Homo sapiens: one gene and its partners. The protein of the gene in region 1 purifies or fractionates together with the protein of each later gene. This does not show direct contact. Each region holds a gene or a part of one and is shown in the gene's direction. Other genes may lie near its edges.

Region 1 (3,500 bases):
CTAAAATGTTCTAAAATTCACATTTTTAAAATTTTGGACTTACTGAAACTTAGTAAGGTTTTACTGTGAATACTTTCAAAACTGTAAACAGAAAAACATATATAGCTATATAATAACTTTTAAATAACAAGTCTATTTTTAAATTACTAATTTAAAGGTTTTTTTTCTCCCTTTTGCTAGCCAGTCTCAGTTGGAGGGCTGATAGTAAACCTTATTGGTATCTGTGCCTTTAGCCATGCCCATAGCCATGCCCATGGAGCTTCTCAAGGAAGCTGTCACTCATCTGATCACAGCCATTCACACCATATGCATGGACACAGTGACCATGGGCATGGTCACAGCCACGGATCTGCGGGTGGAGGCATGAATGCTAACATGAGGGGTGAGTCCTTGCAAAATATTATCCTACTTTTCAACTGTGTTCTAAATCAACCCTCTGTGTTTATTTGTATTAAGTTTTGGGCTTCTGGTATGATATGATTTTTAAAAAGCAATCTGTGACTAAAAGAAAGGTCTGAAGCTATCACTATAGAAAATATTCTTACCTGAATACACATAAAATTAAATATTATTCAGCCTTTAAAAAGAGGGACATTCTGGCTGGGAGCATGGTGGTTCACGCCTGTTAATCCCAGCAATTTGGGAGGCTGAGGCGGGAGTACCACCTGAGGACAGGAGTTCAAGACCAGCCTGGCCAATATGGTGAAACCCTGTGCCTACTAAAAATACAAAAATTAGCCGGACATGGTGGCAGGTGCTTGTAATCCCAGCTACTCAGGAGGCCGAGGCAGAAGAATCGCTTACAGGTGTGAGCCACCATGCCTGGCCGTCACAGAAAATTTTTTAAAAAGAAAATGAGGCTGGGAACAGTGGCTCACATCTGTAATCCTAGCACTTTGGGAGGCCAAGGTGGGTGGATCACCTGAGGTCAGGAGTTCGAGACCAGTCTCTCCAACATGGTGAAACCCTGTCTCTACTAAAAATACATAACTTAGCCAGGTGTGGTGGCAGGCGCCTGTAGTCTCAGCTACTCAGGAGGCTGAGACACGAGAATCACTTGAACCTGGGAGATGGAGGTTGCAGTGAGCCAAGATTACGCCACTTTACTCCAGCCTGGGCAACAGAGTGAGACTCTATCCAAAACAAAAAGAAAATGAAAATATATTTGTTCTTAAATGTTAGTTTTTAAATGATTATAATTATATAGTCCTTTTCATAGTGACAGCTGAATAGATATTAGTTGCAAGGTAAACACAGTGTGCTATTATGAACCTTCATTACAAAAAGGAAATTCTTACTCCTTTTTTAGAAATTTTTATTGCACTATAAAAAAAATGGAGGAAGTACTAATCATTTATTTTGCTGAATTGTTTATTCTGATTGCTTAATATAAGTAATGTGGGTAATGTCAAAACTTGCCTCAAGTATGATTTTTGGGAAGCCTTTCCAGACAAAGTACACCATAAAATTTGGCACGCTGTGTCATGAGTGCCTATGTCCTTATATTTTTACCACTGTATTCTGAATTCCTTGAGGGCAGTGACCATGTTTTAGGCATTTTGAAGTACTAGCCAGTAGCAGAGTATGTGGTGCACAGTAGGTATCCAGTAATATTAGTAGAATGTATTAAAAAACTAAATTAGATGTGCCTTAATTTTTAATGTCCTTATATATTTTATTTGTAGGTGTATTTCTACATGTTTTGGCAGATACACTTGGCAGCATTGGTGTGATCGTATCCACAGTTCTTATAGAGCAGTTTGGATGGTTCATCGCTGACCCACTCTGTTCTCTTTTTATTGCTATATTAATATTTCTCAGTGTTGTTCCACTGATTAAAGATGCCTGCCAGGTTCTACTCCTGAGATTGCCACCAGAATATGAAAAAGAACTACATATTGCTTTAGAAAAGGTACTGTATGTAATTTCTTCACTACTTTCTTCCTTGAAAATCACATTTTTGAAGTCTTTGCTGGAAGTAAAACAGACAACCAAATAAATAATAAAACAAAACGAGGCCAAAAAAGAAATATAAAGTAGCATTTAAAATTTAATAAGTTGACCTAACAAGAAATATGCAAGATATAAATGAGAAAAATACAGTTTTACTTAAAGGATATAAAACAGGGACCGAATAGATGGATGAGATTTTCTTGGATGAGAAGACTCTTTATTATAATGATGTTGATTTTATTTTATTTAGATTTCAATTTAGTTGCCTTCATTGGATATTTTTGTTTATGGTTTGGGATGTTCTAAAATTATTTGGAACTTACTTGGAAGAGTTAGCGCTTGAGAATAAGAAAACATACATAAACTTACAGAATTAATTAATAGGATCCTACTTTGCAATTATAAAGTAGCAGAATTAAGTGACAAAACTAACAGTTTAGATCGAGACCATCCTGGCTAACAAGGTGAAACCCCGTCTCTACTAAAAATACAAAAAATTAGCCGGGCGTGGTGGCGGGCACCTGTAGTCCCAGCTACTCGGGAGGCTGAGGCAGGAGAATGGCGTGAACCCGGGAGGCAGAGCTTGCAGTGAGCCGAGACCACGCCACTACACTTCAGCCTGGGTGACAGAGCGAGACTCCACCTCAAAAAAAAAAAAAAAAAACCTAACAGTTTGGTCCTTGCACAAGAATAAAGACATAAATCAACTTTTAAAAAAATAATAAGTTCCCATTCTTGTGACCTGGGATTGTTTCCTGGACAGCACAAAAAAAAAAATAGTAACAATAATAATAGGTTGTCTGTAAAAGAAGAAATAATAAAAAATGAAAATAAATGAAGAATTATGGTATGTAATGTAAAAGAAGAAATAAAAATAGGTTGTCCAGAAACAGACCCAGGAGTTTATGGAATTCAGTATATAGCAAAGATGGTATTTTAGATCACTGGGGAGAAATAGTTGACCTAAATAACCAGCTTTTGGTTAATTACTTCTTTACTTTGTGGGGAAAAAAAAGCTATATCTCTATACCATATTATATAAAAATACATTTCCAGTGGATTAAATATGTAAATGACAAAAAAATTATGAAACTACTAAATAGAGAAATATTTTTGTTTGTTTGTTTTTTGAGACAGTCTTGCTCTGTTGCCAGGCTGGAGTGGAGGGGCGCAATCCCAGCTCACTGCAACCTCCACCTCCCGGGTTCAAGCGATTCTCCTGCCTCAGCCTCCCAAGTTGCTGGGATTACAGGCCTACCACACCCAGCTAATTTTTGTATTTTAGTAGAGATGGGGTTTCGCCATGTTGGCCAGGCTGGTCTTGAACTCCTGACCTCAAGCTATCCACCCACCTTGGCCTCCCAAAGTGCTGGGATTACAGGTGTGAGCCACTGCACCCCGCCAGAAAAATATGTTTATAATCACAAAGATAGGGAAAGACTTTTTAATATACTTGAAACCAGAGGCCAAAAAGGGAGGATAAAATTTACAAATTTGACCAGTTGAAAATTGCCAGTTGGTGGAAGATTTCATTAACAAGTATAAAA
Region 2 (3,500 bases), on another chromosome or scaffold:
GGGGCTTTCTGTGTCTGAGGAAGGCGAGCGGCCCAGCCAGCCGGCCAGTAGTGCCCCCACCGCTAGGGAGTCCTCCTGCCCTGTGGGGCCCCGCCAGGGAAGGCATCAGTGGAGAAGGAGCCCCAGCTGGCTGCATGGCTCCGCAGGGGCCTGTGAGAAAGGGGGAGGAGAGGCCCAGGGCCTGGGAACCGCGGTAGCTCAGGTGGCTTCCTACTCAACAGCCACCTTGGAAGGCTGGTGTCCCTCAGCCTGAGAGTGCAGGATGCAGTTTCTCCACACCTCCGGGACCTGTAAGCCTCTCTCTCCCCGTTTCTAGGCACCCATGTCGTTGGAGAAATATATCCTGGAGAGAAAATGCTCCCTGAGGGAGCCCTGCCCTGGGGTGGCTGTGGGGATGTCAGGGAGGGCCAGGCACTGCCGGGTGCCACCGTGGGCGGGGGTCAGAGTGGAGGCCGAAGCCCTGTGTGCCCTGAGCAACGAGGCAGGTCCTTCCTGCCCCCAGGGAGGGGCTTGTGGGAGGCAGGGACCTTCTGGGGGGCTGCCCGCCGTGCGCACGAGGTAGTTTCCACAGCCCAGCAGCACATCATTTTACATTTTCATCTTTATTCTTGCTTAATACGTGAATCATGGTTTGTCAAGGTTTCAATTGGCGTGACCTTGCTAATGAGATTGTACAGTTCTCCTCGTGCTACACCTTTAAGCACACCTCTCTAATCAGGTTTCTTAAAACTAAGAAGCCTGGAGTTCGGTTCGGCCCCACAGCCGCGTCAGGTGGTGCCGAGGAGGCCGTGCCCTGGGCCGGCCTGGAAATGGGAGGGCAGGCCTGGTGGCTGCATGTGCGTCCTGCCTCGTGCGGGTGGGGCTGAGCTGGGCCTGGGGTGGACTTGGGGCCAGCACTCTGGCTGCCCCTTGGAGAAGCATGGCCCACGCGAGGCGGCAGCCAAGGAGCCCTACGGCGTCCACCACCGAACTTGAAGCTGAGGTGCCCCGACCTGGGGCCCTGTGGCTGCACCTGTCAGGCCGTCTGTGCAACATCCCGCAGCCCACGGTGGGGGGGCAGCAGCAGCTCTGAGCCGAGCCTCTCCTCTTCTCTTCCAGCCTCCCGGCATGGTGCTCAAGGCCTTCTTCCCCACGTGCTGCGTCTCGACGGACAGCGGGCTGCTGGTGGGACGGTGGGTGCCGGAGCAGAGCAGCGCCGTGGTCCTGGCGGTCCTGCACTTTCCCTTCATCCCCATCCAGGTCAAGCAGCTCCTGGCCCAGGTGCGGCAGGCCAGCCAGGTGGGCGTGGCCGTGCTGGGCACCTGGTGCCACTGCCGGCAGGAGCCCGAGGAGAGCCTGGGCCGCTTCCTGGAGAGCCTGGGTGCTGTCTTCCCCCATGAGCCCTGGCTGCGGCTGTGCCGGGAGAGAGGCGGCACGTTCTGGAGCTGCGAGGCCACCCACCGGCAAGCGCCCACTGCCCCCGGTGCCCCTGGTGAGGACCAGGTCATGCTCATCTTCTATGACCAGCGCCAGGTGTTGCTGTCACAGCTACACCTGCCCACCGTCCTGCCCGACCGCCAGGCTGGAGCCACCACTGCCAGCACGGGGGGCCTGGCTGCCGTCTTCGACACGGTAGCACGCAGTGAGGTGCTCTTCCGCAGTGACCGCTTTGATGAGGGCCCCGTGCGGCTGAGCCACTGGCAGTCGGAGGGCGTGGAGGCCAGCATCCTCGCGGAGCTGGCCAGGCGAGCCTCGGGACCCATTTGCCTGCTGTTGGCCAGCCTGCTGTCGCTGGTCTCAGCTGTCAGTGCCTGCCGGTAGGTGTCCCGGGACAGGCAGGTGGCAAAGAGTGGGGTCCCATGAGTGCTGGCCCATCCCTTTGTCTGCAGTGGGCACAGAGGCCCAGATGCGCTCTTCCTGGGCCCGGGCCCCCTCCCACTCCTGCAGCCCGGGCTTTGGCCCCATCCTGCTCTCCCAACCCTCGCCTCTCAGAGGGTGTCCCTCACCCCTGGGGTAGAGCCAGGTCTCTGGGCAGCCTCAGGGATTGCCAGGGGCCCTCCCAGAAGGTGTAGAGGGTGAACCTCAGTGGCTTAGGTCCCTGAAAGAGAAATCAGAAGGTGAGCACAGACATGACTACTGCTGCCTGGGGGTGCTCCTGAGGGCACACAGGCCCGCTGGCCTCCCTGTAGCCCTGCCTGTGCCCCCAGCAGGCCTCTGGACACTGCAGCGCTCATGGGCTGTGGGGGTGTCATCCACTTGCTGGCCCCGTGTGCCTGGGGGAGTGGTCTACAGGCCCTGCTTCTCTCCACAATCACAGGTGCTGCTGGCCAAGGGTCAGTTGAAGCCCAAGGGCCCTGAGGGGCACGGGGGTAGCCCCGAGCTGTGGCTGAGAACAGAGGGCCCCCTTCCACAGGGGACCTCATCTGCCTGGCGGAGGTGCCCCATGGGGAGCAGCTAGGGGTCACCTGCAGTTGCCCCCTGCCTTAGACCCGGGGGTGCATACTCTGGAAGCCTGGGGTGAGAAGCTAGGCCAGCCCAGGAGACCCCGGGCAGCTTTCTGGGCCCTGTCGGCGGGGCGAGGCCCTGGGCCCGTGGGAGTTGCTGCTGGCTGGCAGGCGCTTCTTGGCACCGGCTCTGGGAGCATGTGGTGACCAGGTGGCCCGGGGTCAGCACCTGCGAGGAGGCCAGGCTCCGTGTTAGTCACGTGCACTGTGAGGTGGGCGCGTTGAGCGCTGCCTACCACCACCTGGGCCACCGAGGGCCCCTCCCACCTGCCCCCTGTCCTGCTGAGCTCAGGAGTGTGGCCTGGGTGTTTGTGGTCCCCTGCACAGTGGGGGACGGTGGGAGGAGGATCTGGAGAGGGACACATCACTCCTCTCCACTCCCACGCAGAGTGTTCAAGCTCTGGCCCCTGTCCTTCCTCGGGAGCAAACTCTCCACGTGCGAACAGCTCCGGCACCGGCTGGAGCACCTCACGCTAATCTTCAGTACACGGAAGGCGGAGAACCCTGCCCAGCTGATGAGGTGTGGGCCTGCCCTGGTCTCTGCAGGGCTGGGTGCGTGCCCTCTGGCCCCTTCTCCATCCCCCTCTGCACCACGCTGACCCCTCCGGCCAGGCAGGCCTCCTCCTGCGGCCCCAGGCTGTGCTGGCCACCCTCATGCCGGCCGGGCCGGACCTCCCTTCCAGGAAGGCCAACACGGTGGCCTCTGTGCTGCTGGACGTGGCCCTGGGCCTCATGCTGCTGTCCTGGCTCCACGGGAGAAGCCGCATCGGGCATCTGGCCGACGCCCTCGTTCCTGTGGCTGACGTGAGTGGACTGGGGTGGAGCCCGGTGTCCCGGGTGGGCGTGGGGACCCCTCCTGGGCAGCAGAGCCTTCCCGGGCCAGAGCCACCGCCCCACAAAGCCAGTTCTACCTTCTCCATGCTCTGGAGACACGGCCCTCCCCTGAACCAGAAGCAGGAACTCCAGGGGCGCTGGGGCCTGGGCAGGGCAGGCCTCGCAGGTACACCCCCCTTTCCT
Region 3 (3,500 bases), on another chromosome or scaffold:
TCTGGGGCCAATCTGATTGGTTTCCCCTTAAAGGTGCCTTGATCTTTTTGCCTGGATGCTCAAAGGATAACTTATTTTTGAAGTCCAGTGAACCTCAGTGGGATATGTCACAGGGGTCATTCTTGTCAGTTTTTCTTGGGACATTCATTGTATGTCCTTTCAATCTATAGATTAAAGTGTTTTAATTTATGTGAAGTTTCCCTTGAATTCTACTTTGAATATTTTTTCTTTTCCACTTGTTCCCATTCTCCTTCAGTTCCCATTCTCCTTCATATGGACATGGTGGATATACTTTGTCTTTTTTATCTATACATTTATCTTAAATTCATTTTATTATTTTTAAATTTCCATTTCATTTTGCTTGCATTTCTCAACCTTGTCCTCCAAAGTTTTTTGTTGTTGTTATTGTTTTTGTTTGTTTAAGACAGGGTCTCACTCTGTCACCCAGGCTGGAGTACAGTCGTGTGATCTTGGCTCACTGCAACCTCTGCCTCCCAGGCTAAAGCGATCCTCCTACCTCAGCCTCCCAAGTAGCTAGTACTACATATATGTGCCCCCAAACCCAGCTAATTCTTTTGTATTATTTGTAGAGATGGGGTCTTGCTGTATTGCCCAGGCTGCTCTTGAACTCCTGAGCTCAAGCGATCTGCCTGCCCAGCCTCCCAAAGTGCTGTTATTACAGGGATGAGCCACCACGCCTGGCCTAGTCCTCCTAAATCTTACTGTGTTTTATCCCTGTCTGTCTTTCCCCTCATTTATAATGTGGCTTTTATTTCTAGATGTTTTATTTTCCTTCCTGTCTGAGTTCTGTTAGCTTATTTTAAACTTCCTTCTATTGCCTCATCATTTCTTCTGCTTTGAAGTCTTATTTTAAACTGGTTCAGTAAGTCCTTTAAATTCATAACAATATGTTTGGTCTGTTTCATAGCAACATTCTTCTAGAAATTTTTTTCTTTTTTTTTGAGACGGAGATTCGCTCTTCTTGCCCAGGCTGGAGTGCAATGGTGTGATCTCGGCTCACTGCAACCTCCGCCCCCGCAGGGTTCAAGCGACTCTTCCACCGCAGCCTCCTGAATACTTGAGATTACAGGCATGCGCCACCACGCCCAGCTAATTTTGTATTTTTAGTAGAGGCGGGGTTTCTCCATGTTTGTCAGGCTCGTCTCGAACTCCTGACCTCAGGTGATCCACCTGCCTCGGCCCCCCAAAGTGCTGGGATTATAGGCGTGAGCCACTGCACCCTGCCTAGAAAATTTTTTTTATCTGACATTTGCTTTTCCTATTCCATTCTTCCTAATTCTTGTAGATTTGCTGTATAGATCTTTTGCTTGTTTGGTTTTGATTATTACTCATTACTGAGTGAAATGAGGTCTCCTTCAGCCAGCCATGTGCGGGAAGCAACTGGGCAGTGAACTGAGCTGGTAGTGAAGCTGCTTCTGGCCCTCTCTCCCAACCGTAGTTCATCAACAGACTGCCTCCAGCAAAGAGAACATTTCTGAGCATTTTATCATTCAGGCCTGTCTTATCTTACTATTTCATGGTGCCAAATAGAGTTCTGGGAAGTTCCCACAGCTTGTGCCCCTTAAATCTTTGTTGCAACCAGGATAATGGTTGTGCTCTGCAGATGTACCACCTACTTGGTGCTCTGCCAACTTTGTCTGAGAGTGGGGACCACAGCAGGTGTTTAATCTCAGCATACTTGTAGGCTCTGGTGTAATCTTCACTGAATTTGGCAGGTCATCCTCATTTATTGTGCCTAGGGTTTCATTGGTACCATATTTTTTCAGAGAGTGGATGGGTTTTTTTCCCTTTCTTGTTTTTGGGTGATCTCAAGGATGACAATGTGACAGAGGTAACTTTATTTTGTTATTCTAAACTTTATTTATTTTAAAACCAGAAGTTTTTTTTTTTTTTTTTTTTGAGATAGGGTCTCACTCTCTCACCCAGGCTGGAGTGCAGTGGCATGATCTCGGCTCACCACAACCTCTGCCTCCCAGGCTCAAGTGATTCTTCTGCCTCAGCCTCCCGAGTAGCTGGCATTACAGGCGCCCGCCACCACGCCTGGCTCATTTTTTTATTTTAGTAGAGATGGGGTTTCACCATGTTAGCCAGGCTGGTCTCGAACTCCTGACCTCAAATGATCCACCAGCCTCGGCCTCCCAAAGTGCTGGGATTACAAGCGTGAGCCACGGTGCCTGGCCTAAAACCGGAACCATTTTTAAAGATAGAGTGCCTCTATTCTTGGAAGGAGTAGGTAACATACCACCTTAGACCATGTCATGTGGGAAAAATAGTTTCAAAATTCTACGCACACCCCAGCAGCAACAAGCTTTCTCATAATCATATAGGTATAAGTAACAGAGCTTAGATCAAATCCAGGTCTGTCTAAGTCCAAAGCCTCAGTTCTTTTTGTCATAGAACTTACTCATAAAGGATATAGATATCTCTTTATGCTTCTTCTTGTGAATATTTTTCTATTAACTACTTTTTTATTTCCTGGTTTTTAGTGTGACAAGTACAAGACTGGAGTTATTGATGGGCCTGCATGTAACAGCCTTTGTGTTACAGAAACTCTTTACTTTGGAAAATGTTTATCCACCAAGCCCAACAATCAGGTATGGCCATTATGAATAAACATTCCAGAATTATAGTGTACTCTAATTTTACCAGAAATTAAAGGCATTATTAAAAGAATTCTTGAACCAAAGCTTTGAGACATTATATGTATTTCAATTTTGTATGCTTTGATTCATTCATTAAACAGACATTTATTTTATTTTAATTTTTTGAGACAGGATCTGTTGTCCAGGCTGGAGTACAGTGGTGAGATCTCTGCTCACTGCAACCTCCACTTCCCAGGCTCAAGTGAGCCTCCCACCTCAGCCTCCCATGTAGCTGGGACTACAGGCTCACACAACCACACTTGGCTAATTTTTTGTATTTTTGTAGAAACAGAGTCCCGCCATGTTGCCCAGGCTGGTCTCGAACTCCTGAGCTCAAGCAATCCACCCGCCTTGGCCTTCCAAAGTGCTGGGATTATAGATGTCAGCCACCACACCTGGCCAGTCAAAAGATATTTATTAATCTATCCCCAGTATATTCCAGACACTGTTTTGTTTTGTTTTTTTTTTTCTGTCAGCACTTTGATGTTAGATGCTGTTTCAGTTACCAGGAATACAATGGTGATTAAGGCAACCTGGTGCGGTGGCTCACGCATGTAATCCCAACACTTTGGGAGGCTGAGATGGGAGGACCACTTGCGCCCAGGAGTCTGAGACCAGCCTGGGCAATGTAGTGAGACCCTGTCTCTCCAAAATTTAAAAAAAATGCCAGGTGTGGTGGCACACACCTGTGGTTCTAGCTACTCAGGAGGCTGAAGTGGGAAGATTGCTTGAGCCCAGGAGGTTGAGGCTGCAGTGAGCTATGGTCCCACCACTGCACTCCAGCCTGGGTGACAGAGTGAGTGAGTGTCTCAAAAAATAAAAAATAAAAATAAAAAA
Region 4 (3,378 bases), about 110 Mb from region 1:
GGGTGGAGGAGCTGGCAGGCGGGGGAGGCTGCCCAGGGCCAGGGCCTGCAGTGTGTAGGGAAATGACAGAAGGGTTGGTGTGGGCGGGAGCCCGTGGGGCCCTTTATCTCCTGGTAAACAGGACCCGGGGGAGAGGGGAGGCCCCTAGGAAGGAAGCGAGGGTAAGGCGCAGGCTGTTGCCAGGGTGATTCAGGCAGCATCACCCACCACTGCCCACCCAGCCTGTCCATCTGAGGCAGTCGTGTGGGACAGAGAAAGCCAGGGTGGGGCTCGGGGGTGGGGGTGGGCAGTGGCTGTAAGTAGGCAAGCGGGGACTGGCATCTAGGCAGGAGGGAGGCGCACCTGCAGGTGCAGGTGGCTCTGAACCCATTCCTGATGGCTCTCTAGGCCTCTGCACCTCCAGTCCCATCCCTGTGGGCGAGTGCTGCCTACACCTGGTGTCACCCAGCAATGGGTGAGCCCTGGGGATAGCCAGCTCTGCATTCAAGGGGTTAGGTTTCCAGGGTAACCGAGCCCCTGAGCCCAGCGTGGAGCCTGGCAGAGCCAGTAATCTGACTCCCCTTTCCCTCCCGCCAGGGGCTGTCCAGAGGCTCCGCTTTGCCTCAGCCTTTAGCCCCAGAGAGGCAGGGTGTGGAGGGTGGGGGCTGGCTTCTTGGGTAAGAGATGCCTCAGGGAAGATCTACCTGGCTCCCTGCTCCTTAAACCTTTCCCTCCTGCCCAGGTCCACCCCTTCCTCTTCCCTGGTCACTTGGCACTTCGACCTCCTGCCCGTTTCGGAAAGGGGTGTGCCCTGAGGTGACTGAACTTTGCCTGATCATGACCTTGATCATGCACAGGGCTGCTGGTGGGGTGAGGCCATCCCACGCAACTCTGGGGTCTGTGAAGCCACCAAGGATCAAGGAATGGAAGAGCTGCCTGAGTGTAGAGGGAGTTCGGTCAGGCTTCTTAAACTTGGAGACTTGGAAACAGAAGGCCTTGTAGGCCACATAGGTTTTCAGAGACTCGCCTGGCAGAGGCCTGGAGCGTCCTGCTGCGTGGACTGTGGGCACCGAGCCACCAGGAGGTTGTTGATCTCATTCTTGCTCACTGGTCCCTGCCAGACTGGTGGTGCCTCTCTACTGTCGGGCAGCCCCACCTCTGTGCTGCCCCATCCACCTACAGCCCTCATGCCTGGGCCCAGCTGGAGGTTCTGACAGGGGCCCCCTGGGGTGGCATGCGGACCCTTCAGGGTGCCCCAGGCGCAGCACAGGTCTCCAGAGACACAGGCACCAGGGCGTTCAGAGCTAGTCCCCTCGCTGCTGTTGACTGTCCTTGAGCAGCCCCAGGGCCGGTTTCTCAACCTCATTTGCTCACCTGAGCAATGAAGTGAGGTGGGCTCCTGGAACTGCAGCAGCCACCCCCCGGGGCCATCGTGAGGCTAAGAATCCAGTGCAGGGTGAGCAACCAGCGACCGCTACAAGGACAGTGAAGAGCTAGCACCAGGACCTTGGGTAGCCCACCCGCTGGAGGGAGCGTGTGCTGCAAAAAGCAAGAGTGGGCTTTGGAGGCCAACGGATGGAGCGGATTCAGTCTGAGGCTGTTCCAGCCCTTGCTTAGGATCCACCTACCTAGGTCTGGAAATCGTATTTCCACTTCAGATGCCTTCTCAGAGGATAAAATAACCCCCGGTGGGGGAGAGTACTGGAAGAGGGCTAATTCCCCTGGTTTTCTCCCCATGAGCATTAGTGTCAGTGTAATTTTAGAGTGACCCCAGCTATGTCACGTGTGGCAGGCACAAGAACAGATGTCAATGAGCTATTGCAGAGGTGGACACCCAGATGTGTGCGCTGGCACACTGGAGGGGCCCGTAGGGTGGCTCTAGACCGCCCCCTCGTGACGGCTTGCCTACCACCTGCAGGCGACGTTGTGGACGTTTACCAGCGGGAGTTCCTGGCGCTGCGCGATCGGTTGCACGCAGCTGAGCAGGAGAGCCTCAAGCGCTCCAAGGAGCTCAACCTGGTGCTGGACGAGATCAAGAGGGCCGTGTCAGAAAGGCAGGCGCTGCGAGACGGAGACGGCAATCGCACCTGGGGCCGCCTAACAGGTGAGGTCTGGGGCGGGAGGGGGAAAAGGCGGGGGCGGGCTGGTTGTAGGTTCCCTGGTCTCAGTCCCGATCCTTCCCGACCCACCCAGAGGACCCCCGATTGAAGCCGTGGAACGGCTCACACCGGCACGTGCTGCACCTGCCCACCGTCTTCCATCACCTGCCACACCTGCTGGCCAAGGAGAGCAGTCTGCAGCCCGCGGTGCGCGTGGGCCAGGGCCGCACCGGAGGTATGGGCGCAGACAGGGAGGAGCACGGGGTGGGGGGACGGGTGGCCCCCGCACCCTTTCCAGCGTCGGGCCTCCGTCCCCCATAGTGTCGGTGGTGATGGGCATCCCGAGCGTGCGGCGCGAGGTGCACTCGTACCTGACTGACACTCTGCACTCGCTCATCTCCGAGCTGAGCCCGCAGGAGAAGGAGGACTCGGTCATCGTGGTGCTGATCGCCGAGGCGAGTGAGCCGGGACGCGGGGTTGGGGGACATTCAGAGGAGCCCCCGCGGTGCAGAACTGACAGCAGGAACCATTCCGAGGAGAAAGCTGTCGGAAGTTCAGTTGCTAGTTTCATTCGCAAATGCTCCGAGATAGAAAGTTGAAAGGGCTTTCTGGCACCCTCTACCCCTACCCATCGCCCCCGCCACCCCCTAGTCCTTGGCCATGCGAGTCCCAAAGGGAAAGGGCCGTCTCTGGGGGCCCCCTTACTCCGCCCTCAGCACAGCAGGCTCACTCCCTCCACGTGGGGGGCATCTGAAGCCTGTGCCCCTTCTCCAAGCCCTTCCAGGCCTTTTGGGGCAGCAGCAGGGCTAAGGGAGGGTGCTTGGTCTCCCCACAGACTGACTCACAGTACACTTCGGCAGTGACAGAGAACATCAAGGCCTTGTGAGTACTGGCGACCCCAGAGAGCTGGTGGCGGGAGAGCTCGGTGCGGGGTGTTGTGCTGGCAGGTTCCTGCCTCCCCATGAGATAGTGCCTTTCCTATCTCGTGGGGAGGCAGGGACCTGGTGGGGGAGGGGTGGGTGTGCAGAAGTGGCCCAGCCCCTCTGGAGCTCTGCTACCTCAGTTGGCTGGGTGTAGGGGGTGGTGGGGGGCTGGCACTGGGTGAGCCTCAAGAAAGGGCCACAGTCTGGTGGGCTCGGCCCCTCTCAGCCCCTGGAGGCTGCATACGGACTAGGCCTTCCCGTCCCCCAGGTTCCCCACGGAGATCCATTCTGGGCTCCTGGAGGTCATCTCACCCTCCCCCCACTTCTACCCTGACTTCTCCCGCCTCCGAGAGTCCTTTGGGGACCCCAAGGAGAGA

The links. Proteins that work in one complex are often made in the same cells at the same time.
Region 2: the proteins of SLC30A5 (region 1) and PIGQ purify together in Homo sapiens (affinity purification with mass spectrometry; one large-scale study listed by BioGRID and IntAct). This does not show direct contact.
Region 3: the proteins of SLC30A5 (region 1) and DIPK1A purify together in Homo sapiens (affinity purification with mass spectrometry; one large-scale study listed by BioGRID and IntAct). This does not show direct contact.
Region 4: the proteins of SLC30A5 (region 1) and MGAT4B purify together in Homo sapiens (affinity purification with mass spectrometry; one large-scale study listed by BioGRID and IntAct). This does not show direct contact.

The regions. Positions count from the first base shown.
Region 1 is NC_000005.10:69,121,514-69,125,013, forward strand, and holds part of SLC30A5 (proton-coupled zinc antiporter SLC30A5), read left to right. Parts: intron 1-180; coding exon 181-382; intron 383-1,685; coding exon 1,686-1,912; intron 1,913-3,500. UniProt on the Homo sapiens protein: Together with SLC30A6 forms a functional proton-coupled zinc ion antiporter mediating zinc entry into the lumen of organelles along the secretory pathway.
Region 2 is NC_000016.10:572,968-576,467, forward strand, and holds part of PIGQ (phosphatidylinositol N-acetylglucosaminyltransferase subunit Q), read left to right. Parts: intron 1-1,098; 5' UTR 1,099-1,107; coding exon 1,108-1,796; intron 1,797-2,871; coding exon 2,872-3,003; intron 3,004-3,166; coding exon 3,167-3,287; intron 3,288-3,500. UniProt on the Homo sapiens protein: Part of the glycosylphosphatidylinositol-N-acetylglucosaminyltransferase (GPI-GnT) complex that catalyzes the transfer of N-acetylglucosamine from UDP-N-acetylglucosamine to phosphatidylinositol and participates in the first step of GPI biosynthesis.
Region 3 is NC_000001.11:92,849,963-92,853,462, reverse strand, and holds part of DIPK1A (divergent protein kinase domain 1A), read left to right. Parts: intron 1-2,507; coding exon 2,508-2,615; intron 2,616-3,500.
Region 4 is NC_000005.10:179,800,489-179,803,866, reverse strand, and holds part of MGAT4B (alpha-1,3-mannosyl-glycoprotein 4-beta-N-acetylglucosaminyltransferase B), read left to right. Parts: exon of another isoform or gene 1-1,755; coding exon of another isoform or gene 1,756-1,897; coding exon 1,898-2,083; intron 2,084-2,172; coding exon 2,173-2,313; intron 2,314-2,399; coding exon 2,400-2,533; intron 2,534-2,913; coding exon 2,914-2,960; intron 2,961-3,269; coding exon 3,270-3,378. UniProt on the Homo sapiens protein: Glycosyltransferase that catalyzes the transfer of GlcNAc from UDP-GlcNAc to the GlcNAcbeta1-2Manalpha1-3 arm of the core structure of N-linked glycans through a beta1-4 linkage and participates in the production of tri- and tetra-antennary N-linked sugar chains.